7 linked regions of the Homo sapiens genome follow. The protein of the gene in region 5 interacts with the protein of the main gene of each other region in a pairwise test. Each region holds a gene or a part of one and is shown on either strand. Other genes may lie near its edges. The genes, in order: GOLGA6L2, UBXN11, ZNF343, SAXO5, NEK6, KIAA1328 and PTPN21.

Region 1 (2,853 bases), on a different chromosome or scaffold from region 5:
TTTTCAACTTTCACTAAAGGCAGAGTAGCTTGTTATAGATTAGCTTCCCCACAAGAACAGTTAGAGAAACTGGACAAAAATGTGCCCCCCCATCAAAAACAATTGTTTGAAGGTAATGGGAGACTTCAGCCAGAACTTGAGTGACCAGGCCTGGGAGGTGAGCCTGACAGTCTGTAGTGCTTTCCCACATTTGGTGATTGGTCAACAGTAGAGGGCTAAGAGGCTAAGAAACTGAGTATTATGAAGTGGTAGTTAACAGGCTGGAAAGCCTAGCTGAATGTTTGGCACTCTCACAGGGCTGAATGAGAATTTGGGTCCCAGGAAGGAGATGGGACCTTGGTGGCAACTCTGGAAGGGCCACCCCTAGGAGTCCAAATGAATAAAAAATAGACCAGCCGTCACAAACTAAAACCTGCTTTGAACTAGCTTAGTCCCAAACTAGATGAAGGCAATCTGCTCTTACTCCAATTGTGTGCCATAAAGTCAAAGTCAATACTCTCTGGAGGCACATAAAAGTTTACTAGGAATGCCATAAAACAAAACAAGACTAAATGAGAAAGACCAAGAAGAAAAACAATAGAAACATACATAGATATCAGAGTCCTCAGGTAGAAACTTTTTTTTTTTTTTTGAGATGGAATCTCGCTCTGTCATCCAGGCTGGAATGCGGTGGTGTGATCTTGGCTCACTGCAGCCTCCTGAGTAGCTGTGATTACAGGCGTGCACAACCACGCCCGGCTAACTTGTATTTTTAGTAGAGACGGGGTTTCATCATGTTGGCCAGGCTGGTCTTGAACTCCTGACCTCAGGTGATCCACCCCCTCTAGGTCTCCCAAAGTGCTGCGGTTGTAGGTTTCGGCCACAAGGCCTGGCTAGTATTTTACCACAATTTAAAGTAAATTTTCTTTTCTTTTTTTTTTTTTTTTTCAAGTTTGTGCTCAGACTATATTCACACAGTGACATGGCGGCTTATGCTTCTGTAGGCCTTGTTGACAGTGCCAACTTTTAGATATTGATGATCTTCATCTTTCTCTTGTCTCCTCGGTAGAAGAATGGGATGCAGGAGGTACTGCCTAATCCTGGGCACTGCTGGGCGTTCTTCATCCCACAAAACAGCTGCATGATCTCCTGTGCAGTGGGGTTGTCCTGCGGAGAACCCTCCCCAGCCTCTCCTCCTGCAGGCTCCACACTGCCAGTGTGGCTCATATTACAAAGAACTTTGGAGGGAGGGAGGCAGGGCTCTGAGCACCGCTCCTCGTGCTCTGGCAGCCTCTCCTGCATCTTCTCTTTCTGATCTCGTATCCTCTCCTCCTTCTCTCGCATCTCCTCCTGCCCCCACATCTTCTCCTCCTGCCCCCACATCTTCTCCTCCTGGCCCCACATCTTCTCCTCCTGGCCCCGCATCTTCTCCTCCTGCTCCCGCATCTTCTCCTCCTGGCCCTGCATCTTCTCCTCCTGCTCCCGCATCTTCTCCTCCTGGCCCTGCATCTTCTCCTCCTGCTCCCGCATCTTCTCCTCCTGCTCCCGCATCTTCTCCTCCTGCTCCCACATCTTCTCCTCCTGCTCCTGCATCTTCTCTTCCTGCTCCCACATCATCTCCTCCTGCTCCTGCATCTTCTCTTGCTGCTCCTGCATCTTCTCCTCCTGCGTCTTCTTCTTCTCCCGCATCTTCTCCACCTGCTGCCACATCTTCTGCTCCCGCATTCTCTCCTCCTTCTCCCGCAGCCTCTCGTCCTGCTCCCACATCCTCTCCTTCTGGTCCCACATCTTCTGCTCCTGATCTCCTGCTCCTGCATCTTCTCGTGTTCCCACAGCTTCTCCTTCTGTTCCGGCAGCCTCTGCTGCTCCCACATCTTCTTCTTCCTGCTCCCACATCTTCTCCTCCTGCTCCCACATCTTCTCCTCCTGCTCCTGCATCTTCTCTTCCTGCTCCCACATCTTCTCCTCCTGCTCCCGCATCTTCTCTTCCTGCTCCTGCATCTTCTCCTCCTGCTCCCGCATCATCTCCTCCTCCTCCCGCATCTTCTTCTCCCGCTCCCGCATCCTCTCCTCCTCTCGCATCTTCTCCTCCTGGTCCCATGTCTTCTTCTCCTGCTCCTGCGTCTTCTTCTCCTCCCGCATCTTCTCCTCCTGCTGCCACATCTTCTTCTGCTCCCGCATTCTCTCCTCCTTCTCCCGCAGCCTCTCGTCCTGCTCCCACATCCTCTCCTCCTGGTCCCACATCTTCTGCTCCTGATCCCGCATCTTCTCCTCCTGCTCCCACATCTGCTTCTCCTGCTCCTGCAGCCTCTCCTCCTGTCTCCACATCTTCCTGCTCCCGCATCTTCTCCTGCCGCCACATCTTCTTCTCCTGCCCCCACATCTCCTCCTGGTCCCGTATCTTCTCCTCCTGCTCCCATATCTTCTCCTCCTGCTCCTGCATCTTCTCCTGTTCCCACAGCTTCTCCTTCTGTTCCGGCAGCCTCTGCTGCTGCCACTCCTTCTCTTCCTGCTCCCACATATTCTCCTCCTGCTTCTGCATCTTCTCCTCCTGCTCCCGCATCGTCTCCTCCTCTTCCCGCATCTTCTTCTCCCGCTCCCGTATCCTCTCCTCCTCTTGCATCTTCTCCTCCTGGTCCCGCGTCTTCTTCTCCTGCTCCTGCATCTTCTTCTCCTCCCGCATCTTCTCCACCTGCTCCCACATCTTCTCCTGCTCCCGCATCCTCTCCTCCTTCTCCCGTAGCCTCTCGTCCTGCTCCCACATCCTCTCCTCTTGGTCCCGCATCTTCTGCTCCTGCTCCCGCATCTGCTTCTCCTGCTCCCACAGCCTCTCCTCCTGTCTCCACATCTTCTCTTCCTGCTCCCGCATCTTCT
Region 2 (3,500 bases), on a different chromosome or scaffold from region 5:
GGACTGTAGAATTCAGTTCAGTGGGAGCCATGAGGTCTGCTAAGCAGGGGAGAGGCATGTTCAGAGGGCCCAAAAGCAGGGGTGTGCCCCAGCCCCAGACACCTCCCTGGCTCTTTAAAGTCTGGGCCAGTCCTGGGTAGGGAAATGCAGGGCAGGGTCCCTGGGTGGGATGTGACGAGGAGAGGCCCAGAGAGGTGGGCTCGGACCCAGCTCCTGAGGAACATGCCGTGAAGAGCTGGGGACTGCTGGCTGCCCGCATCCCCCGGGGCCCAGCTCTCTCACCTCCATCTCCCTGACCTGCCGCTGCAGCTGCACACACATCGTCTCCAGTTCCTCCTGCCGCTGCAGGGTTGCCTCGGCTTCAGGGAAAGACAGGGACAGGCTTCAGCTGCCCCAGCAAGACACTGCCAGGTCACCTCTGCCCTGAGGGTCATCTGGAGAAGCTGTTCTGGGGATCCCCCAAGAACTGCCTCTTGGCCCCCCACCTCTCTGGCCTCTCCTCTGACCCCGTGGCGGTGCCTTGATGGGCCCTAGGAGGCTGCCACTCCCCTCAGAGCCTCCTCTCCTCCACACTTCAGATGGGACTCGGTCCCATGTAGGAGGGCATGGAGTGACTCCAGCACTGTCCTGGATATGCTGCAGCCCCTCTGTGGGCTCAGCTGTCCAGACCCCACCAAGTAGTCAGCTTGATGCTCTTGATGCCAGAAGCCATTGTGAAGCTTCCAGGAGCCCTGGGCCCAGGGGAGGTGCCTGACTGGGGGCGCAGGTCAGCCCTCCAAGAGCCCCCTACCTGGGTGTGGCCGGAGGGTCTGCACCAGGTCCTCTAGGGCCGCTATCTTCTGATCCTGTAGCATAAGACACAGGGTGAGCACAGGGCCTGTGGTTCCCAGAGCCCTGCCCAGACAGGAAGCTCCAGAGCTTTGCCTATGTTGGATGCTGGGGAGCAGCAAGCCCCTGCCACCCTTTGGCACAGCCACTTCTCCCGGACCTCAGATAACCCTCGCAGTTCCTCTGAGGTAGGGAGAGGTGCGGCCCACACCTGAGGACCCCCACATCTGAGGGTGCCGCGCTCTGCTCAGCAGTCCACTGTGCCACCCAGTCCAGGGTCTACTGGGTCCTGCTCAGCTGAGGGGAAGACCCCCCAGCCTCTCGGCTCAGGTCACAGGACCTAGATCAGGCCCAGGCCACACCTGGTCCTCGAACTGGGCAGGTCAGTGTGGTAGACGGTTCTAGAATCACCCACCCTAGTCCAACTCCTGGCCTCCCCAGCCCAGTCCCTCCACCTCTCAGACCGGCCCCTGGCCCTCTCCCACCTGGAGCCCCACCTTGGACAGTATCTCATCAGTCTGGGCCTTCACCTGCTGCTCCAGGTCCCACAACTTCCTCGTCATGAAGGCCATCAGCTCCGAGTCATGGGATGCAGGGACTGCCAAGCACACAAAGTCTTTAGAGCCCAGACCTAGAGCCGAGGCTGAGTTGTGGGGGGGAGGGAGGAGGATAGGGGTCCCAGGAATGGAAATGAAGGTACTGAGAGCAGCTCCCACTGGCATCATAGGAACTGTTCTAAACACTTCATGTAGATCAACCCCCTGTAATCCTTGAAACACACCCAGGAGGTAAATGAACTGTTTTAGGAAACTGAGACACAAAGGGATCAAGTAATTTGTCCAACATATACAAGGAAGTGGTGTAACATATGGGTGACATCACCCTGAAGCATTGCCAAGAATTTCACCCTCGATCTAATCAAACCTCCAAATCTAGTGTCCAGTTGGTACGCAAAACAGCAGATAGAGGAGTGAGGCAAATACCCCACGGGCAAACTGCCAGACAAAGCCAGAATGCGGGGTGCTGTAGAAAACAGTAGCCAGGGCCGGGCATGCGGTGGCTCATGCCTGTAATCCCAGCACTTTGGGAGGCCAAGGCAGGTGGATCACTTGAGGCCAGGAGTCCAAAACCAGCCTGGCCAACATGGTGAAACCCTGCCTCTACTAAAAATACAAAAATCAGCCGGGCGTGGTGGCAGGTGCCTGTAATCCCAGCTACTCGAGAATCGCTTGAACCCAGGAGGCGGAGGTTGCAGTGAGCCAAGATCGCACCACTGCACTCCAGCCTGGGTAACAGAGTGAGGGACTCTGTCTCAGAAAAAAAAAAAAAAAAAAAAAAGTATGAAAATGGAAAAGAAGAGAAACCTACAGGAAGAAGCAGGCCTTTTCCTTTTCTTCCCCTAGACAGTGTCCTTTCTATGTATGAAGCAGGAACCGCGGCCATCATCCTACAACCACATGAGGCTGACATGTCAAGGCAGGTTCAGTGGAAAGATGGAGAAACCTGAGCCCCTGATGATGTCTTGGAGTCACTGAATTAACACCCCTGGAGCTGCCTCTTTAGGATTTCTTTGCATGTGGGATAACAAAACTTCCTTAATGTTCTTGTTGGCTGAGGAAGGGTTTTCTTTGACTTATAGTTAAATGCATCTTAATTGACAAACATTTGGGAACTGTCTACACATGGAGTGCAGGTGAGCTCACTGGGGCACAGTGGACACAGAGGAGAATCCAGGCCAGAGGAACATCACATTGAAAAGCTGAGGGCCTGGGTGCAGTGGCTCGCACCTGTAATCCCAGCACTTTGGGAGGCCGAGGCGGGCAGATCACTTGAGACCAGGAGTTCGAGACCAGCCTGAGCAACATAGAGAAACCCTGTCTCTACTAAAAATACAAAAATTAGCCAGGCATGGTGGTGTGTGTCTGTAGTCCCAGCTACTTGAGAGGCTGAAGTGGGAGGACTGCTTGAGCCTGACAGGTCGAGGCTGCAGTAAGTAGTGATTTGCACCGCTGCACTCCAGGCTGGGCAACAGAGCAAGGCAGTCTCCAAAAAAAAAAAAAACAAAAAAAAAACCTGAGAGAAAAAAGGAGGTGGTGATGACAGCTAAGAGACAGAGCCTAGAAGCAGAGGGTAATGGGAGGGCAGCAGCTTGGTGCCTAAGAGCTTGGTGGAGGTCCTGAGAAGGAAGGAGCAGTGGACAGTATAGGACACTGCTGGCAGAGAAGTAAAATAAGATAGGCAAGTCCTCATCTGTTACCTTGGTAGGGACAGATATTGGCTGGGAGTGGGAGAGGAGGGGATGACAGGGGAAAGCAGGGAGAGGACACCTGGAGCTCTTTCAAAGAGAGAACCTGGTTGCCATGGTTACTACTGAAAGTGACCTGGCTGGGTATGGTGGCTCATGCCTGTAATCCCAGCACTTTGGGAGGCTGAGGCAGGAGGACTGATTGTGCCTGGGAGGCTGAGGTTGCAGTGAGCCATGATCGCACCACTGCACTCCAGCCTGGATGACAGAGCAAAACCCTGTCTCAAAAAAAATAAAATAAAAAAGAAAGTTGACCCCAGCCAGGGTATAGGAGATCTTGGCTTTGTGGTGAAATGGCCGCAGAACCTTAGGCCAGGCTCTTCCTGTCTCTTTTTCCACCTCAATTCCCTCCTCCGGTAAAATGGAA
Region 3 (3,500 bases), on a different chromosome or scaffold from region 5:
CAATCTCGGCTCACTGCAACCTCTGACTCCCTGGTTCAAGTGATTCTCCTGCCTCAGGCTCCCAAGTAGCTGAGATTACAGGCACATGCCACCATGCTCAGCTAATTTTTGTATTTTTAGTAGAGATGGGATTTCACTATGTTGGCCAGGATGGTCTCGATCTCCTGACCTCGTTTAGGTTTGTAAACAAATGAAAAAGAAAAAAACATAGTTTATGAAACCCCCAAACCACAATAAACTTGACTCTTAATTTTAACTTATGTCACAGAGCTGCATCTCTCCCCCTTGCAAACCATGCCCCCAGCCTTGCTTGCCTCCTTGCAGCTTCATATACTGGGCAGGTACATCCCTTCATTAAGGTCTTCGTGTCAATAATTCCCTTCACCTGAAATGCTCTTACACTAGATACCTACAGTTCTAACCTCCTCACCACATTATGTCTTTAGACAAATATTACTTCTTCACTGATTTCAAATACCCAGTTTTAAACTTCAGCCAGCCACCCTATCACACCCAATACCCCTTTATCCTGCCTTATTTCATTATTTTTTACTATGTTGCACTTATCACCTTTTAACATACCATATTATAATATCCCTGTATATGAGGCTTTTTGTTTGTTGTCTGTCTCCTTACACTAGAAAGTAAGCCCCATGGAGGCAGGGATTACGATTTTGTTTACTAATGTGTTGTAAGTATCTAGAACATTTTTTTGTGGTACATATTAGGTGATCAGTAAATCTCTACTGAATTAATGAAGGAAAGGAAAGAACACAGCCTTACCCAATGAGAGAAGATTCCTGTAATTCTCCAGCATCACTTCTTTGTATAGATTCCTCTGCTCTGGACTCAGTCTCTTCCATTCTGCTTCTGTGAAGATCACAGTCACATCCCTGAATGTAACTGGTACCTACAAACAACCAGTAAATTAATGTATAGCAAGCCACCATCAATCTTCCCTGTGTGTGGAGCACAGCTGGTGACCCTGGAGAGCCTGGATATGCAAGTTGATGTAATTCGTCAGAATATATGGTTCTCCATATGAAGTTCTTCTGAGCACTACTGTCTGCCTGGCTTTCTGTTAAAACCTGTGAGGAGCATAACTGAGCACAGAACACATTCTAGGCCCTTGACATATATGATTTCACCGGAGAAATGATTTGTGAATTAATTTGTAAACCTCAGGCTGTGTTTAAGACAGTGACTTTGAGGATTCATAATGAAGGAATTCAGAGATGAAACAGCAGAGAATGGGCTGCAGAAGGAACAAAAGCATCATGGACTTGGGGCTTGTGCTGGGCAGTAGGGAGTGGTAAAGATTTAGAGGAGAGAATGGAAGAAAACTTGGATTACAGAGAAAAATGGGAGTGAACAGATGGGGTCTGGAATGAGCATTTTTTAAAAGCTCAGGTTACTAAATGGGATCTGTAAAATCCCTGTCTTTGCTATGTGCTTTGACAACTTTTTTCAAGAAAGCCTAATGCTTCACTCATCTACCCAGATGTTGACCGCCTTTTCCTTTCCCAAGAAAGAGAATATATGTCTATTCTCTGGAAAATGAGCCAGCACTTCAGGAAAAAAAAAAAATGTAACCCCAACTCACCACTATTTGGGCCTTTCCCTCCTTTTTCTGGGGGCAGTCAGTATCATTAGAAGGCAAGCCTAGGGAAAGAAAAAGAAGCTATGAGAAACCAGACCCCCCCACCCCCCACCCCCCACCATGACGCTCCCTGAGCAGCTCTTCTGAGCCTTAGGATGAAGGAAGTAGTCACTTAACTCAGAGGTGACCTCTGAAGCATTTTCAGGTGAACCTGGAGCCTTGGCTTCCTCTTCATCCCTCCGGCTCCCTCAACAATTCTCACCTTTCGCTTTATGATTTTGGGTCAATTTCTTCATAGTCTCTACATTTTCCCCATTCTTTGGAAGCAAAATCTCTTCCCAGTATTGATCTCCCAGTGCTGAAGGATAAGGCAACATCATGGCGCCAGAGTCAGCCCAGTGTGTGCCTTGAAATTCTGCCAGAGGTCCAGGTAGATGTTATTTCATCTCAAGATGGAGTTCTGCTGCCTGTGGTGACTTCTTCCAACCTTAATTATAAAAAGCCCAGCTTGTTTCCCTGCAGCCAGGACCTGTGGGATGAAGAAGCAATTTGCTATTGCTGGGGCTTTTATTGTGGGCCCTAGGCCTATGCCTCTTCAACAGGGATCCTGTCCTCTCACACCCTCCTCATTCAACAAACACGGAGTCTCCATCTACATGGGATCCCTGGATTTTCTACCTTCATTCACTCTACCTTCATTTCTAGGCCCTCCTGCTTGTGTTCTGCCACTCTCCCTTAGCTCTCAAACTTTACTTCTTCTGCCTCTGCACCTCAGATTCAAACTCTATGTTTTGGATCAGTCTCTGCTACTACCTGAAGCCTGAGTCAGAGAGAAGACAGAATATAGCATAATGCCTGTGGAGAAAGAGCCTCTGACTGTTTCCTGTAGACCAACTGGGGCGTGCAGAACTCAGCTTCTGATTCCCCTGCCCCAACCCAAGGTTCCATCTATATTCAGTTCCTTGTGTCTTGGATGGGCACAGTGGTTCACACCTGTAATCTCAGTACTTTGGGAGGCCACGGCAAGCTAATCACTTAAGCTCAGGAGCTCAAGACCAGTCTGGGCAACATAGCGAAATGCCGTCTCTACAAAAAATACAAAAATCAGCTGGGCATGGTGGTGTGCGCCTGTAGTCCCAGCTACTCAGCAGGCTGAGGTGGGAGGATCACCTGACCTCGGGAAGTCGAGGCTGCAGTGAGCTGAGATCATGCCATTGCACTCTAGCCTGGACGGCAGGAGTAAGACCCTGTCTCAAGAAAAAAAAAAAAAATCCCTATGTCCCTGTATTGTGAGGAGTTTAGGAGATCAAAACTCAGTCCTTCTTAGTTAAGGGAGAGCTCCAGTTCTCACAATTACTCTGAAGAGATAACCTCCTAGCTTCCATTGCTATGCATGTCTACCACATGACCTTACCACAGATGTGCATTTGTGTATCCTGATGGGCCCAAGTCAAAGTCCTACACTGATGTGGTCCCAAAGAAGGCAGGTGGTATTAGGAGCTATGCCACCTTCAAAAGCTCCTCAGACGCTGTCCAGGATTTCAGCCCAAATGGCTACAGGCCTATTGTTGCCTAGTACCCTTCTGAGACTAGCTGGGGTCTCTAAGCAGCTCTTGTAATTCATCCCTCAACACCATAGGTAGAGATGACCACTCCCTCTTCTGTCCAACCTGGCCATCATACCATATTGCAATTTCTCTATTTACGTGACTGTCTTTACTAAACTGTGAAGCTTCTTGTAAGATGAAATGCTTCTCAGTCTTTTTGCTAATATAATTCTAGTGATTAGAATAAAAGAGGCCTTTGTGGTAGATTTTATCATCGTTCCCAATTATTTGTTGCCCTATAAAAGGATGGTACTTCCCTGTCCCAGACATCAGGCTTGACCTTGTAACTTGCC
Region 4 (4,075 bases), on a different chromosome or scaffold from region 5:
CCTGGACGACAGAGCGAGACTCCGTCTCAAAACATAAAAAAAAATCTTTCATGTGGTGCCTACTGTAGGCCTGGCACACAGTAGGCACCACATAAATGATTTCTGTCCCTACTCTAGGCCTGGAGGCCAGCAGGGGTGGGGAACTAACATTAGTTCACAAAATAGACCTAGATCCCTGCCTTTGTGGAATTGATAATGGGGCGGGAGATGACAGACAATAATAAAAAATATAACAACAAAAATTGAAGAGTAGGTTAGAAGGTAATAGCTGGGTACTGTGACTCACACCTGTATCCAGGCACAGTGAGAGGTCAGAGCAAGAGGACTGCTTGAGCCCGGGAGTTCAGGACCAGCCTGGGCAATATAGTGGGACCCCGTCTCCACACACACACACACACACACACACACACACACAAATTAGACAAGTGTGGTGGGCTCAACCTCTTGGGCTCAAACGGTCCTCTCACCTCAGTCTTCTGAGCATCTGGGACTATAGGTGTGCACCACCATGCATGGCTAATTCTTTCTATTTTTTTTTTTAGAGACAGGGGTCTGGCTATGTTGCTCAGGCTGGTCTCAAACTCCTGGGCTCAAGCAACCCTTCTGCCTCAGCCTCCCAAAGTGCTGGGATTACAGGTGTTAGCCACCATGCCTGGCCAAGGGTAGGTTTTAACCACTGCTTCACAAAAGACATTGAGGCTCAGGGAGGTGGTCATTTGCTTGAGATTTGAACCCAGGGCGACTCTGATTCTAGAACTTGGAGAATTAACCACTGCATTCTACTGTATGTCTGATACAAGAACCGCGTCTTCTCACCCTCAGTCAGTTGTCAAGGCCACGGTTTTCTCCTTCTTCCCCTCTGGGGGACCCATTTTTGTTCCTCTGCCTAACTCCAGCCCTGCACCCCAGCCACTGGCCATCTCCGTTTCTGCCACACTTTTTCTCCCTTCTCTCCCCCTCCCCCGCCCCTCCCCCCTCCCCTCCGCTCCTTTCACTTCCCTACCTTCTCTCTCTTTCTTTCTTTCCTTTTCTTTTTGTGACAGAGTCTCACTCTGTCCCCCAGGCTGGAGTACAGTGGCACGATCTCAGCTCACTGCAACCTCCACCTCCTGGATTCAACTGACTCTCCTGCCTCAGCCTCCCAAGTAGCTGGGATAACAGGTACCTGCCACCATGCCCGTCTAAGTTTTGTATTTTTGGTAGAGACGGGGTTTCACCACATTGGTCAGGCTGGTCTCGAACTCCTGACCTCAAGTGATCTGTCTGCCTTGGCCTCCCAAAGTGCTGGGATGACAGGTGTGAGCCACTGTGCCCGGCCTGCCACGCACTTTCTTACTGGTTTTCCCCTGCTCTGCAGTTGTCCTAGGTCCTGCCTATTCTCAATCTCTTCCTGTCTTCACACCTTCTGAGAGTTAGCTCTCTCCTCTGACCTTCAGCTTCAGACTCCAAGCCTCCCCTGACCCTCCGCCTCTGCTCAGTCACCTGGGACTTTCTTGCCTTTGCTTAGATCACAAGTGTCTCCCATGCTCTCCTCTCTGTCTCCCTTGGAGACCAGCATTCCAAGTTCTCAGGCTCACCTCTTGCAGGAAGACCTCCCAGATCACTTCAACCCACAAAACCTGCTTACCTCTACCTATTTAGAAAACATGGATCAGACGGGTGCAGTGGCTCAGGCCTATAATCCCAGCACTTTGGGAGGCCGAGGTGGGCAGATCTCCTGAGGTCGGAGTTCAAGACCAGCCTGACCAACATGGAGAAACCCCATCTCTACTAAAAATACAAAATTAGTCAGGCGTGGTGGCGCATGCCTGTAATCCCAGCTACTCCAGAGGCTGAGGCAGGAGAATAGCTTGAACCCAGGAGGCAGAAGTCGTGGTGAGCCAAGATTGCGCCATTGCACTCCAGCCTGGGCAACAAGAGCGAAACTCTGTCTCAAAAAAAAAAAAAAAAAAAAGAAAAAAATACAAAAATTAGCTGGGCATGGTAGTATGCACCTGTCATCCCAGCTACTCAGAAGGCTGAGGCGGGAGAACCGCTTGAACCTGGGTGGCAGAGGTTGCAGTGATCCGAGACCACGCTACCGCACTCCAGCCTGGGTGACAGAGCGAAACCCCATCACAAAAATAGAAAGAAAACATGGATGAAGGGTGTGTGTGTGTGTGTGTGTGTGTGTGTGTATGTGTGTGTGTGTGTTTTAATGAAACCACAGTTTTTCAGTGTGTAAGTTTGTTGCTTTTTTTTTTTTCTCAGCTCACTGCAACCTCTTCCTCCTGGATTCAAGCGATTCTCCCACCTCAGCCTCCAGAGTAGCTGGGACTGTAGGTGTCCGCCACCACGCCCGGCCAATTTTTGTATTTTTAGTAGAGACGGGGTTTCGCCATGTTGGCCAGCCTGGTCTCGAACTCCTAGCCTCAGGTGATCCACCCTCCTCGGCCTCCCAAAATGCTGGGATTACAGGCATGAGCCACCGCGCCTGGCTGAGTTTGCTGCTTTTTGAATCATTTGCCCCCTGCAATAGTTGAGAGTTGAATATGACCTCCAAAATGGGTCATCAGAGAATCCAACAACTGAGACTACTAGCCAGGTAATCTTGGAATAAGTCATTAAGCTCCCATGAGCCTCAGTTTTCACCTCTGTACATCAGGGACGAGGACAGTGCACCTACCTCAAGGGATGGCGTGTGAATCAATGAGTTTTAGAAAATTCACTTAGCTACAGACCAGATCTTTGGGTCTCCCTCTGTCCCTGGTCTCTCAGAGGATCCTCATGTTCCTTCCCAGGCTGCATCCAAGGGTGGTCCAGCCCTGCGCATTGTGACCCCAAGAGCTTCCTTTGTGTAATGATACTGTCACAATGACCACTCAGCACCTCTAGGGGCAGCCGGGAGGAAAATTAGCAGGCAGGCTTGGTGCGAATACTGCCTCCTTAGAGCTCCAGGAACCCAGGCAAGTAATTGACTTTTTGGAGCCTCTGGGGTTTTGTTCGGTTGGTTTTGTTTTTGAGGTAAGCTCTCGCTATGTTGCCCAGGCTGGACTTGAAGTCCTGGGCTCAAGCGATCCTCTCGCCTCAGCCTCCCAAGTGGGTGGGTCCACAGGTGTGTGCCACCATGCCTGGCTAGGACTTAGGTTTTGTCATCTGCAAAAGGGGACTAATGATGGTAGCCAGTTCAGAAAGCAGTGTCAGTATTGAGGATTTGATTAAATAGGCTGCTGGTGTCCATTATTATTATCATCCTCTAAAGTTTTTCTGTCCCTCTACCTTCTACACACCCCACACAGAATGGACCCACTTCCCTGAATCACTGCACCTCTTGATATTATTCTAGGGCTCACAGATCTCCCTTTAAAGGGGCCGGTCACCCCTCCTTCCCCAGTCAAAGACCACCAGGAATGTACCTGTGATTGAACACATTCAAGCTTATTATTCATCAGAGAGAGAGAGAGAAAGAAAGAGAGAGGGAGAGAGAGCTCATACATGTCATAGGGCACTATGGCGGTCTCAGTAGGGAGGTGTTAGAAAGAACTTTTTTTCGCTATTTATTTATTTATTTATTTATTTGAGATGGAGTTTCGCTCTTGTTGCCCAGGCTGGGGTGCAGTGGCACGATCTCAGCTCATCGCAACCTCCGGCTTCAAGTGATTCTCCTGCCTCAGGCTCCCGAGTAGCTGGGATTATAGGCATGTGCCACCACACCCAGCTAATTTTGTATTTTTAGTAGAGATGGGGTTTTTCCATGTTGGTCAGGCTGGTTTCGAATTGCCGACCTCGGGTGATCCGCTCGCTTCAGTCTCCCGAAGTGCTGGGATTATAGGCGTGAGCCACCACGCCCGGCCAGAAAGCACTTATTATGGGATTTGCAATTCTGCTCGGTGTTTTGGGGGCACAGCTTAAGGAAGTAGGGGATTTGGGTGGGATGAATTTATTGGTTGGAAATTTTACTTTCTTTTTTGAGATGAGCAGATAAAAACAAATAAAAACAACACACAGGTGAGGCATGGTGGCTCACATTTGTAATCTCAGCCTCCCAAAGTAGCGTCCAGAAAAGGGCTGTTGTGGCTTGGTGTGGTGGCTCACG
Region 5 (3,500 bases):
TTTCTCCGTCTTTAACTCATCTTTTCAGTGAGTTCAGTGGCTACAGAGTAACGAAGTGAGGGCGGCTCTGGGAGGGGTGGAGCCACCCTGGGCTCCCTGGGGCTCTGTATAGAATCACAGAGCCCCACGCCTGCCCTGCCTGCCCACAGTGGGCCCCAAGAGGCAGTCCCACCTGTCCCCTCACCATGCCACCTGGCATGGACTGTGTCTGTCCCCTCGAAAGCTGCATAATCGCATATCCCCAGCACACAGCCCAGGGCCAGGCAGTTTGCTCAAGGAAGAAGAAGGAAGGGGTTTGCGCCTCAGCGCCAGGCTAAGCCCTGGGAGACCCAGCAGGGCCGTGACCTCGAGTACCTGATGGGGTCACCCCCAACTAGACTTGCTCTCCCAGCCCCCAAGAGGCAGCACGGGCCCTGCATGGGCCTGGGTGTGACCAGCCGCCCTTCCTGCCCTGTCACCCGTGGCTGCCTGTCACCGAGACTGTCCTGTCACTACAGCCGAGGAGCCAGGCCTGCCCGCCCGCTCTCCCAGCCCCGTGATTTGTCTTGCAGCTGCTGCCGTTGCTCGGAGCGAGACACTTGCTTGTAGCTTGTGAGCTGTGTATAGGCAAATCTTTCATTTTTCCTGCATTACGCCGGCGTGTACTGTCACTTAATTTTTATGTATGCAATCCTTCCTGACAAATATGATCTGCTGCCTGGTAATTCGTCTGACGCTCATTCTGTTCCGCGCTCTAATTACGGCTCCTATTTCTGACACCGAGGCAGCCACTCTGCCACCGCTGGGTACCGCACCTGTCAGCCCGACCATGGCACTGACTAATGCCCTTTCATGCCAGCCTCGTGTTAGCAAATACAGAGGCGGGGAGGGGGCCCAGGGAGGGGGGAAGTGGGAGGAGACCAGATTTGCATAAGCCCAGCTCTTGGGTCAGCAGCCTTAGGAGATGAGGTGGTTGCTGGGGCAACGTGGCTGCCACCACAGCATCCCCACATAGTAGGTGCACATGAGATGCGGCAGATGCATAATTCATCCCCACGCACAGGGCGTGAAGTGTCCCTGGCCCCTGTGCCCCTCCTGAGTCACGATGCAATGGTAATTAGTTCAATCTCTTGCCCAACCAAACGTGTGTGCAAGACTTAGCTGTTTGCAGAACCTCTTGGTGGAAGGGGTCTTTCCCCTGGGTCTTGGAGATACAGGTCCTGGGCTTTAGCTTGGCACTGTCACCATTCTAGAACCTGGTGGGTGCAGGCCCTTGGTTCTGGGAGCTTGTCCTGCTGGCAGGGACTTGCTCAGCTCCGTGCAGGCCTCAGCTCATTGGGCATCTCTCCTGGATGCCGGGCACAGAGCCCGGAGTGGGGACAGGCCCCAGGAGGGCTCCTTCCACCCATCATGTGGCCTGGTCGGCGCTCGGAGGGCTTGGGAAGAGCCCGGCTTATGAGGGCGGCCTTCTCCCAAGTTCCAATTCCTTCTCATTAATATAATAAGTGCACCAGTCCAAGTCAATAAAATCATACTGTCGGATGAGACGCATCTCTGCCCATTCCTAATGATGCGATCCTAACCCTCTCTGACGGAGCGCCACAGTCTTTTTTCTGCAGTGGGACAGAGAAAGGCTCGGTGCTGACTGACGGGGGACAGGACGCAGCGGTTCTAACTCTTCTCTTTGACAGCTTCCCTTGAATTTCCTGGTCTTTTCGAAGCCCTTCAACCACACAGGTAAACAGTCCCAAACTGACCGAAACACTTGGTTTTTCACAAGGGAAGTAAATGTTTGAGGGGACAAGGAAAGACGAGGCTTCCTTCCAGCAACGGAGAGTCAGTGGCCCGGGTCCCCAAAGGGGGACTCCAACGGTATCTGCCGAGGCCCCCGGCCCTCGTTTCCTGGAAGCAGCGTGGGTTCTGAAGGAGAGGCCTGCTGCCATGTGACCTCGGAAAAATCTCTCGAGCGCCTGGATTTCTGATTCTTCCTCTGCTAAAGGGAAGGATGGCTGGATGCTTGGGGCTGTCAAGGGCATGAGTGGAACGTCCCATACTCCCTGGGGGGTGGGTCCCTACACATCTTCCCTTTGGAGCTAAAGGAAGAGCTCCTGAGGCCTGGCCAGGTGGGGACAAGAGTTTCAAAACAACCCCCTCCCCGCCAGCCCCGCTGGCTCCATCAGCTGCTGGGAGTCGCTGGTCTCTAGGCTCGTACATTTCTCCTAAGTGTGTGTGACGCGCTGAGAGTCTCTCTGGAACCTGTATGAACAGTGACACTTTCCACAAGACACTGTGACTTCCAGAAAGTGCCTCCGCCCAGACAATGCTGCTGTCTCTCACACCCCGCTTGCCGCAGGCACTCGGGGGTCTGGGGATAGGAGACGTCCTGGCTTGAGCCATGGAGTGGGGTGGAAATGAGCTGGAATGGGGCGGTGTTCAAGGAGGCGGCGGGCAGCTCCTGGGGCCCAGCCCCCTCCTGGGGAAGCGGATGCTGGTGGGCACAGCACACAGGGGGTGGGCCTGGGGGCACCTTCCACTGCAAACACACCTCAAAGAGCCAGGAAATAGCCCTGAGAAAGCAGGGGCCCTCGCCCACTCCATGGGCCTCTGGGAAATGTTCCCACAGATGGGCGTGGTGAAACCCAGACAGCCTTGTAGTAACGCACAGGAGACCCTGCTCCTGTGTTCCACTGGTGGGGAAGCGGGGGCTTTCTTGGTTCCTTTGTTCTCACTAAATGAAAAATCCCCCATCGTACAGCATTCCAAGTTTCACATTTGGTTACATACCCAGTGTGTGGATACTGAAGCTTGCCATTGCTTCACCTGTCCCCAAAACACATCTGACCAAGTCTCTTCCGGAGTCCAGCCCTTCAGCACCCCCCGACCCATAGGGTGGTGTCCAGCCCACTGAGCTCAGAGTTCAAGGCCCTGCCCGCTTTTCATGCCACTCCTGCAAGGACCCTGGTCTGTGGCAAAGCCAAGCTCAGCCGCACACCGAGGCTCACCCACTGTTTCCTGGAACGCTGCTCCCTCCCCTTCCCTGTCCCAACAGCATCTGGTCTCCCTTTATGGTCCAGCTACAATGTCACCTCCTCCCTGGCAGGCACCTGGTCCCCACAGCCTCAAAACCGCCAGTTTAAAAGCCAGAAACTAGGAACAGTGCAAATGTCCACCCCCTAGGAGGGATGGACCAAGGGTGCTGCCCGTGAACGGGACACTCACAGCAGTGGGAAGATGACCGCCCTGTGCCACAGACACGCCCCCTGCTCCAAGCAACCGGCTCAGTCAGCTTCTCCCGCAAGGGCTGGGAGGTGATCAGGGGGTGTGGGAAGCCCCAGCTGGGCTCCTCTGGCCACAGCTGATTCCCTTCTGGGTCACTATTCTGAACAGATGAGAAAACCCTGGGGCTTAAAAAAGGCATCTTCCTGCACTAACTGACCAAACACACGTGGGGAGAATGTTTGCGTCTCCCTGCATGGTCACCAGGACCGCTGGGGGCTGCTGGGGCACAGACAGGTCCCCCT
Region 6 (3,500 bases), on a different chromosome or scaffold from region 5:
CATTTCCCAATTTGATGAAAACTATAAACCCACAGTCCCAAAAAGCTCAACAAACCTCAAACAAAAGAGATACTTTAAAAATTACTCCAAGGTAGGATGGGCATGGTGGCTCACACCTGTAATCCCAGCACTTTGGGAGGCCGAGGCGGGCAGATAATGAGGTCAGGAGTTCGAGACCAGCCTGACCAACATGGTGAAACCCCATCTCTACTAAAAATACAAAAATTAGCCGGGTGTGGCGGTGCACGCCCGTAATCCCAGCTACTCAGGAGGCTGAGGTAGGAGAATCACTTGAACCTGGGAAGCGGAGGTTGCAGTAAACCAAGATCGTGCCACTGCACTCTAGCCTGGGCGACACAGCAACTCTGCACCTCAAAAAAAAAAATTACTCCAGGGTATACTATAACCAAATTGCTCAAAACCAGTGATAAGAAGAAAATCTTAAAAGCAGCCATATTTAAACACATACACACAGAAAAATAAGGAGGAATAAAAATGACAGCCAACTTCTTAAAAACAATACAAGCCAGGCAACAGTGCAGCAACATCTTTAAAGCACTGAATGAATAAAACTATCAACTCAGAATTTTATAACCAGCAAAAATATCTTTTGAAAAGGAAAGAGAAATAAAGACTTTTCAGACATACGTGAGCTGAAAAAATTCTTTCCTAGCATACCTGAACTAATGTTAAAGGAAGTCTTTTAGGAAATCTGGATACACGTGAAAGAATGAAAACACCAGAAATGGTAACTACATGAGTAGATTTAAAAGACTTCTGTTGCATTTGTAAAATTTCTTTAAAAGGCAATTAAAATAAAATGCATCCAAAATGGAATAAAGGCATCCAATAAGAATATGTGAACTATCTCTATTCACAGACAACTTCATCTTATATAGAGAAAATGGTAAGGAATTCACAAAAGAACTATTAGATTAGAAATAGTTTGATAAAGTTGCAGGATACAAGATCAATTCACAAATCAACTGAATTTCTATATACTAGCAATAAACAATCCAACAGTGAAATTCAGAAACAACTGTGTTTCTAATAACATCAAAAAGTATAAAACATTTGCTGATTCTATAATGCCTATGGAAACACTGGGACCCAAAATAGCCAAAACAATCTTGAAAAAGAAGAAGTTGGAGGACTTATACTTCCTAATTCCAAAAATAAAAATATAAATCAATGGAACAGAATACAGAGAGTCCAAAAATAAACCCTTACACTTATGGTCAACAGATATTTGACAAGGGTGCCAAGAAATTCAAAGGGGAAAGGACAGTTTTTTTAACAAATGGTGCTGGGACAACTGGATATCTACATGCAAAGGAATAAAGTTAAACTACCACCTCACCCCATATACAAAAATTAACTCAAAATGGAATGAGAACTAAATGTAGGAGTAAAACCTTTAAAATTCTTAGAAAAAAAATAGGCACAAATATTTGTGACCTTGGATTAGGCAACAATTTCTCAGATATGACACCAAAGCAAAGGAGACAGAAGAAAACACTAGATAAACTGAACTTCATCAAAATTTTAAACTTCTGTGCTTCAAAGAACACCAATAAAAAAGTGAAAAGGCAATGCATAGAATGAGAAAAAATATTAGCAAATAATGTATCTGATAAGGGACTTGTAAATGGAATTTAGAAAGAACTCATAACTTAACAGTACTAAGACAAATAACTCAGTTAAAAAAGGATATGACTAGATATTTGTCTGACGAAGATACACAAATAGCCAAGAAGCACATAAAAACATGCTCATCATCATTTAGTCATTAAGGAAATGCAAATCAAAATCACATTGAATTACCACTTCACACCCACTAGGGTGGCCATCCTCAAAAAAGATGGACATAAATGTTGGCAAGAATGTGGAGAAATCTGAATCCTCATACATTGCTAGTCGAATGTAACATGGTGTAACCACTTTAAAAAACAGTTTGGAATTTTGTCAAAAGGTTAAACATAAAACTACACGACACAGCAATTCACTTATAGGTATATACACAAGAGAACTGAAAATATATGTCTACACAAAAACTTGTATATGAATGATCATGGAAGAATTATTCATAATAGCTAGAAAGTTGAACATGTCCATTGACTGATAAATGGATAAACAAAATGTATATTCAGACATAAAAAGGAATGAAGTAATGATACAGAATAGATGAACCTTGAAATCATTATGCTAAATCAAAGAAGCCAGTCACAAAAGGCCACATATTATGTGATTTCCTTTTATATGCAACATCAATAACAAGCAAATCTATAGAGACTGAAAGCAGATTAGTGTTTGCTAGGGGCTGAGATGACTGGGGAATGAGAAGTGCCTAATTGGTATGGGGTTTCTTTCTAGAGTGATAAAAATGTTTCGAAACTAGATTGTGGTGATGGATCCACAACTCTGTGAATATAAACACATACAAAATCAAAATAATAAACTGTACACTTTAAAAAGGTGAATTTTATATGCAAATTATATCTCAATTTGAAAAAAAAGAGAGTTGACTAAAGCAAATGTAATATGTATTTTGGGGTCTGTGCACATAAGTAAAATGTATGACAACAATATCAAAAAAGTCAGGAGGTGAGAAATAAAGTACAGTGTTGAAAGGTCCTTAAACTATAGGTAATGTGGGAAAATATCACTTGATAATAGGCTATGATAAATGAAAGATGTATACTATAATCTCTAAAGAAGCCACTGAAATAATCCAATCAAAAGTTATAGCCAATAGGACAAAAATATGAACTTAATCTAAAAGAAGGCTATTGTTCAATGTAAAACAAATCAACCATTATGTGAAAAAACATTTTTTAACTTTTTTTGATAAGAACTTGCAAATTCAACTATTCACACCCCAGTGTGAAGTGGGTACACTGGTACAAGTAACGTAAAGTAGGCCTTTTGATTCAATCACAGTAAAATCCTGTAGTAATAAATGAGGCACTGGAAATATCTTTGAGAACATAATTCACAGACTGAAAAAAGTTTTCTATAAAAGGTCTGATAGTAAATGTTTTTAGCTTGTGGGCATGCAGTCTCTGTAGCAACCCTGCTATTGTAACACAAAAGCAACCATAGACAATTATGTAAAACAATGAGCACAGCTGTATTCCAAAAAACCTTTATTTATAAAACAGGCAGAAGGATTTGGTCCACAGGTTATAGATTCCAGAACATTCATATACAAGTTTTGTGTAGACATCCTAGTGAGTGTGAAGTGGTATTGAACAACTCTGGTTGCAGAGGGAAAATATAACAAAAATTAAAGTAAAATAAACTGGTCAGATAGGACATGTGCCAAAGGAATGCACCGATACTATTACTATGCCTAGTCATTGATTTGTCCCTCATCTTTACGAGGGTTCATCTATCAAATAAATTCACAAGAATAAAAATCAAAAAGGATGCCTAATTAAAAAGCAATTCTCATCAGTTTGATTTACCAATGCCACACAGATCAGAATGTAGTTCTTTTG
Region 7 (3,500 bases), on a different chromosome or scaffold from region 5:
AAAGTAAAACTGGACCCCCTATCTCTCACCATAAACATTACCCCAGTTTAATGGCATTATACTGGTTCCAGGAAAAAAGCACTTCTTCAAAGAAAAAAAATGATACTTAAAAATTATTATAAAGAGTATGTAAAGAGAACAGATGGCACCTTGGTAAGTTGAAAGCTTTTGTGAACACCATCAAAAAGCCCAGACACTTTTGTTACATAAAAATGCATGTCAGTATGTGATGAGGAAAAACTAGCAATTCAGTGGCTCCCAGAATTTATGAGCTAAAAAGAGGTCTTCAGATTTAGAAGGACAAAGTTCTAAAGCCAGGCAACACAAGGTCAAGGCTGTAGGGAGCCATGATCATACCACTGCACTCCACCTGTCTGGGCGACAGAGCAAGACTCTATCTCAAAAAAGGCAAAAGAAAAAAAAAAAAGCCGGGCAAATAAGTGCGCCCTGAGTCCTGGTAACAGTGTTGGGGGCAGAGTGGTTTCGCACATGGAGAGTAGACATGACTTTGGCTCTGTCTGATAGACGCTTTTTATCTAGCACTGGTATGTGGATTTCCCAGCTTGCAGTACAGTTTGTCACAAATGTTTAAAACTAGGGTGTTTATCTAAAACAATACAATAAAAATAAATTTTAAAATATCTGAATTCTAAACAGACATGAATACAATTCTTACCATTCTTGTAACTTAACTGAAACTGCATGTGCTGTTGATTACTTGAGGCGTTCCTCTCACCTTAATATGTGATGCGTTGATGTAACCAGTGTTGTTTTCTTTAGTTGGGACCAACTCCACTCTCACATCATCATAAGGAAGAACATCTTGGAATCGATTTCTTTCTGCATTTTCAGGGAGTCGTGCTGTTGAGCACTCCCCATCAACTAGCCGTTTCTTAAGAATTCTTTCATATTCTGTGAATACCATTCCTTGTTCTAATCGTTGTTCCAGAATTTTACACTATAAAACAGAATATGTGTAATAACATGAATACAGCCACACGTCGTGGCTACCTTTTGACTGTATATTTGAAATCTTGTTTTCTGCTTCAAATCTAGCACTGTATAATATTGAAAATTCTAGGTTGGGCACGGTGTCTCATGCCTGTAATCCCTGCACTTTGGGAGGCCAAGGAGGGAGGATCACTTGAGCCTAGGAGTTCAGGACCAGCCTGAGAAACACAGTGAGACCCCGTCTCTGCAAAAAATTAAAAAACGAGCCAGGTGTGGTGGTGCATGCCTGTGGTCCCATCTACTTGGGAGGATGAGGCAGGAGGATTGCTTGAGCCCAGGAGGTTGAGGCTGCAGTGAACCATGAGAACCTATCTCAAAAAAACCAAACCAAAACCAAAACAGAAACAAAATTCTAGGTGAAAATGAAGTTAAAATTTTAAAAAGCCACAACAACAAGAGTTAAAAGAACAAAAGACAATCATTTTGGTGAGAAATATAATGCAAACTTTTGTTTAAAGTTGAAAATTGGCCTAAAGAAATTTGTTGAATTCATTTTCTCTAGATCTGTGGTCAATTTTGTGACCCCTAATAGATGGAATTCTCCTGGGGAACAGTAAGTAAATCTAGGGGACGGATAATGAGTTCCAACAGCTATGAACAAATGTTTCCATTTTATGTCATACGATATATAAAAGACTAAAGCAGTAGGAAATATTCGAAACTACCTCCAGGATCCCGTTGTAAAGCAAATGTATGCCTATCTGATTTTGATGTAATAAAACCTCATAGAAAATACACCTCAGGCACAAAGGAAGTTTTGAAAAATTGAGAAACTACTCTCGAGATAAACTTTCAGTATAATAAAAGTCAATGTCTGCTGCTTTTCCCCTGTATGCTCCTGTATTTTTGTAGATTTCTTCTCACTTTAAGGCCATCAAAATCAAGACTGCTCCAAAAGGCCAGGAGAAGGTAAAAAAGAACACTGAGAAACAAACAAACAAAAAATCAGCATTCGAACCTGAAATTATCTATTAAGACATTAGCTATACATTTGCCCCAATTTTGAGGCCCATATTACAAAATTCCTTAACACTCATTTATTATTAAATTGTGTTAGAAAATTCACCAAAATCTCATGAAGGCATTTGCGTAGTATTTACCGGTTGTTCCAGAGAAGGCACAAAGCCCTGTGTGTCCCATACATACCCTTTCATCATTCGTTGCTCTGGTAGCCACTTCCTTTCCTTCATCAGGCAGAGGCACTCGAGATAGGGAGAGTCCATTTAGGGCAGCCAGTTTAAGAGGACCAATTTTTTTTGCATCTACTCGAGTCTTTTTCATTCCCTGTAAAAGGATTTATATGTATATATGAAATATACACAAATACAACCCCTGTGAAAAGAAGTTTCAATGCACTGAAGACCAGGAACACACAGAGGGAGTGTTCTCCTTTGCCAATAAACCCAGAAAGATTACACTCCTTCACACACCACTTGTTTAACAAACATTAGTAGGAAGACATTCCTTTCAAGGCCAAAGCCCTGATAAAGTCTTCCAGATAGAAGGTTTTGAAACACTATTGGTTACAAAGTTCTGTTGTAATGAAAGGTGAGGCTCCAGGCAGACTGCATTCCTTTTAAAACAAGACAGACGTAACAAATCAGCTGAAGTCCAAAAAAAAAAAAAAAAAAAAAAAACAAAAGCTTTAAATGCAATCAATTGACTATAGTAAGCTTTTATAAATTTTTTTTTTGAGGGTCTCACTCTGTCACCCAGGCTGGATGGAATGCAGGGGCACCATCATAGCTCACTGCAGCCTCAACCTCCAGTCTCAAGCAATCCCACCTGAACCTCCCGAGTACCTGGGACTACCAGCACATGCCACCATGCCCAACTAATCTTTGTGTGTTTTGTAGAGATGGGGTCTCACTATGTTGCCCAGGCTGGTCTCAAACAACTGAACTTAAGCAGTGTTGGCCTCCCAAAGTGCTTGAGATTACAGGCGTGTGCCACCATGCCCGGACAGCTTTTTATAATTTTTAAAATATATAAATTCTTTAAGTCATTCTGAAAAATTAAATGGTTTCTGCAGCAGCCCCCTTTGTGTGTTAAGCCCCCTCCTCATATGCTACTCTGCATTCTAGTGCAGACTTAGATGACCCGGGTTAGATCACGCTACCTCTCAGAACGGCTACGTTTTTAAACAAGGAAAATAAAACAGGGCTAAAATCTCCATCATGACACCAGGAGGATAGGACAGAAGAGAAAGCATCAACAAAATCTTGTCTCCTGAAATCAAGTGTTTCCTAAAATTATTATTAGAGCATGATTTTCCTCTCTGAGAATAGTAAGCATAAGAACACTAAGTTGACCAGGTGCGGGGGATCACGCCTGTAATCCTAGCACTTTGGGAGGCCGAGGTCAGGAGATTGAGACCATCCTGGCCAATATGGTGAAACCCCGTCTCTACTAAAAATACAAAAATTAGCTGGGCGTGGTGGCACATGCCTGTAATCCCAGCTACTCGGGAGGCTGAGGCAGGAGAAAGG

The links.
Region 1: the proteins of NEK6 (region 5) and GOLGA6L2 interact in binary tests that used the Homo sapiens proteins (3 or more experiments, as listed by UniProt).
Region 2: the proteins of NEK6 (region 5) and UBXN11 interact in binary tests that used the Homo sapiens proteins (3 or more experiments, as listed by UniProt).
Region 3: the proteins of NEK6 (region 5) and ZNF343 interact in binary tests that used the Homo sapiens proteins (3 or more experiments, as listed by UniProt).
Region 4: the proteins of NEK6 (region 5) and SAXO5 interact in binary tests that used the Homo sapiens proteins (3 or more experiments, as listed by UniProt).
Region 6: the proteins of NEK6 (region 5) and KIAA1328 interact in binary tests that used the Homo sapiens proteins (3 or more experiments, as listed by UniProt).
Region 7: the proteins of NEK6 (region 5) and PTPN21 interact in binary tests that used the Homo sapiens proteins (3 or more experiments, as listed by UniProt).

Annotation. Positions count from the first base shown.
Region 1 is NC_000015.10:23,438,538-23,441,390, forward strand, and holds the end of GOLGA6L2 (golgin subfamily A member 6-like protein 2), read right to left. Parts: coding exon 1,208-2,853; coding exon of another isoform or gene 1,006-1,207; 3' UTR 501-1,005; downstream 1-500.
Region 2 is NC_000001.11:26,296,637-26,300,136, forward strand, and holds part of UBXN11 (UBX domain-containing protein 11), read right to left. Parts: intron 1,427-3,500; coding exon 1,326-1,426; intron 846-1,325; coding exon 791-845; intron 360-790; coding exon 283-359; intron 1-282. UniProt on the Homo sapiens protein: May be involved in the reorganization of actin cytoskeleton mediated by RND1, RND2 and RND3. Promotes RHOA activation mediated by GNA12 and GNA13.
Region 3 is NC_000020.11:2,491,916-2,495,415, forward strand, and holds part of ZNF343 (zinc finger protein 343), read right to left. Parts: exon of another isoform or gene 3,500-3,500; intron 2,130-3,499; 5' UTR 1,981-2,129; coding exon 1,863-1,980; exon of another isoform or gene 1,836-1,862; coding exon of another isoform or gene 1,778-1,835; intron 1,663-1,777; coding exon 1,604-1,662; intron 911-1,603; coding exon 784-910; intron 170-783; coding exon of another isoform or gene 117-169; exon of another isoform or gene 1-116. UniProt on the Homo sapiens protein: May be involved in transcriptional regulation.
Region 4 is NC_000019.10:7,496,273-7,500,347, reverse strand, and holds the start of SAXO5 (stabilizer of axonemal microtubules 5), read right to left. Parts: upstream 2,801-4,075; 5' UTR 2,666-2,800; intron 1-2,665.
Region 5 is NC_000009.12:124,327,449-124,330,948, reverse strand, and holds part of NEK6 (serine/threonine-protein kinase Nek6), read right to left. Parts: intron 1-3,500. UniProt on the Homo sapiens protein: Protein kinase which plays an important role in mitotic cell cycle progression. Required for chromosome segregation at metaphase-anaphase transition, robust mitotic spindle formation and cytokinesis.
Region 6 is NC_000018.10:36,835,627-36,839,126, reverse strand, and holds part of KIAA1328 (protein hinderin), read right to left. Parts: intron 1-3,500. UniProt on the Homo sapiens protein: Competes with SMC1 for binding to SMC3. May affect the availability of SMC3 to engage in the formation of multimeric protein complexes.
Region 7 is NC_000014.9:88,471,508-88,475,007, forward strand, and holds part of PTPN21 (tyrosine-protein phosphatase non-receptor type 21), read right to left. Parts: intron 2,296-3,500; coding exon 2,158-2,295; intron 959-2,157; coding exon 737-958; intron 1-736.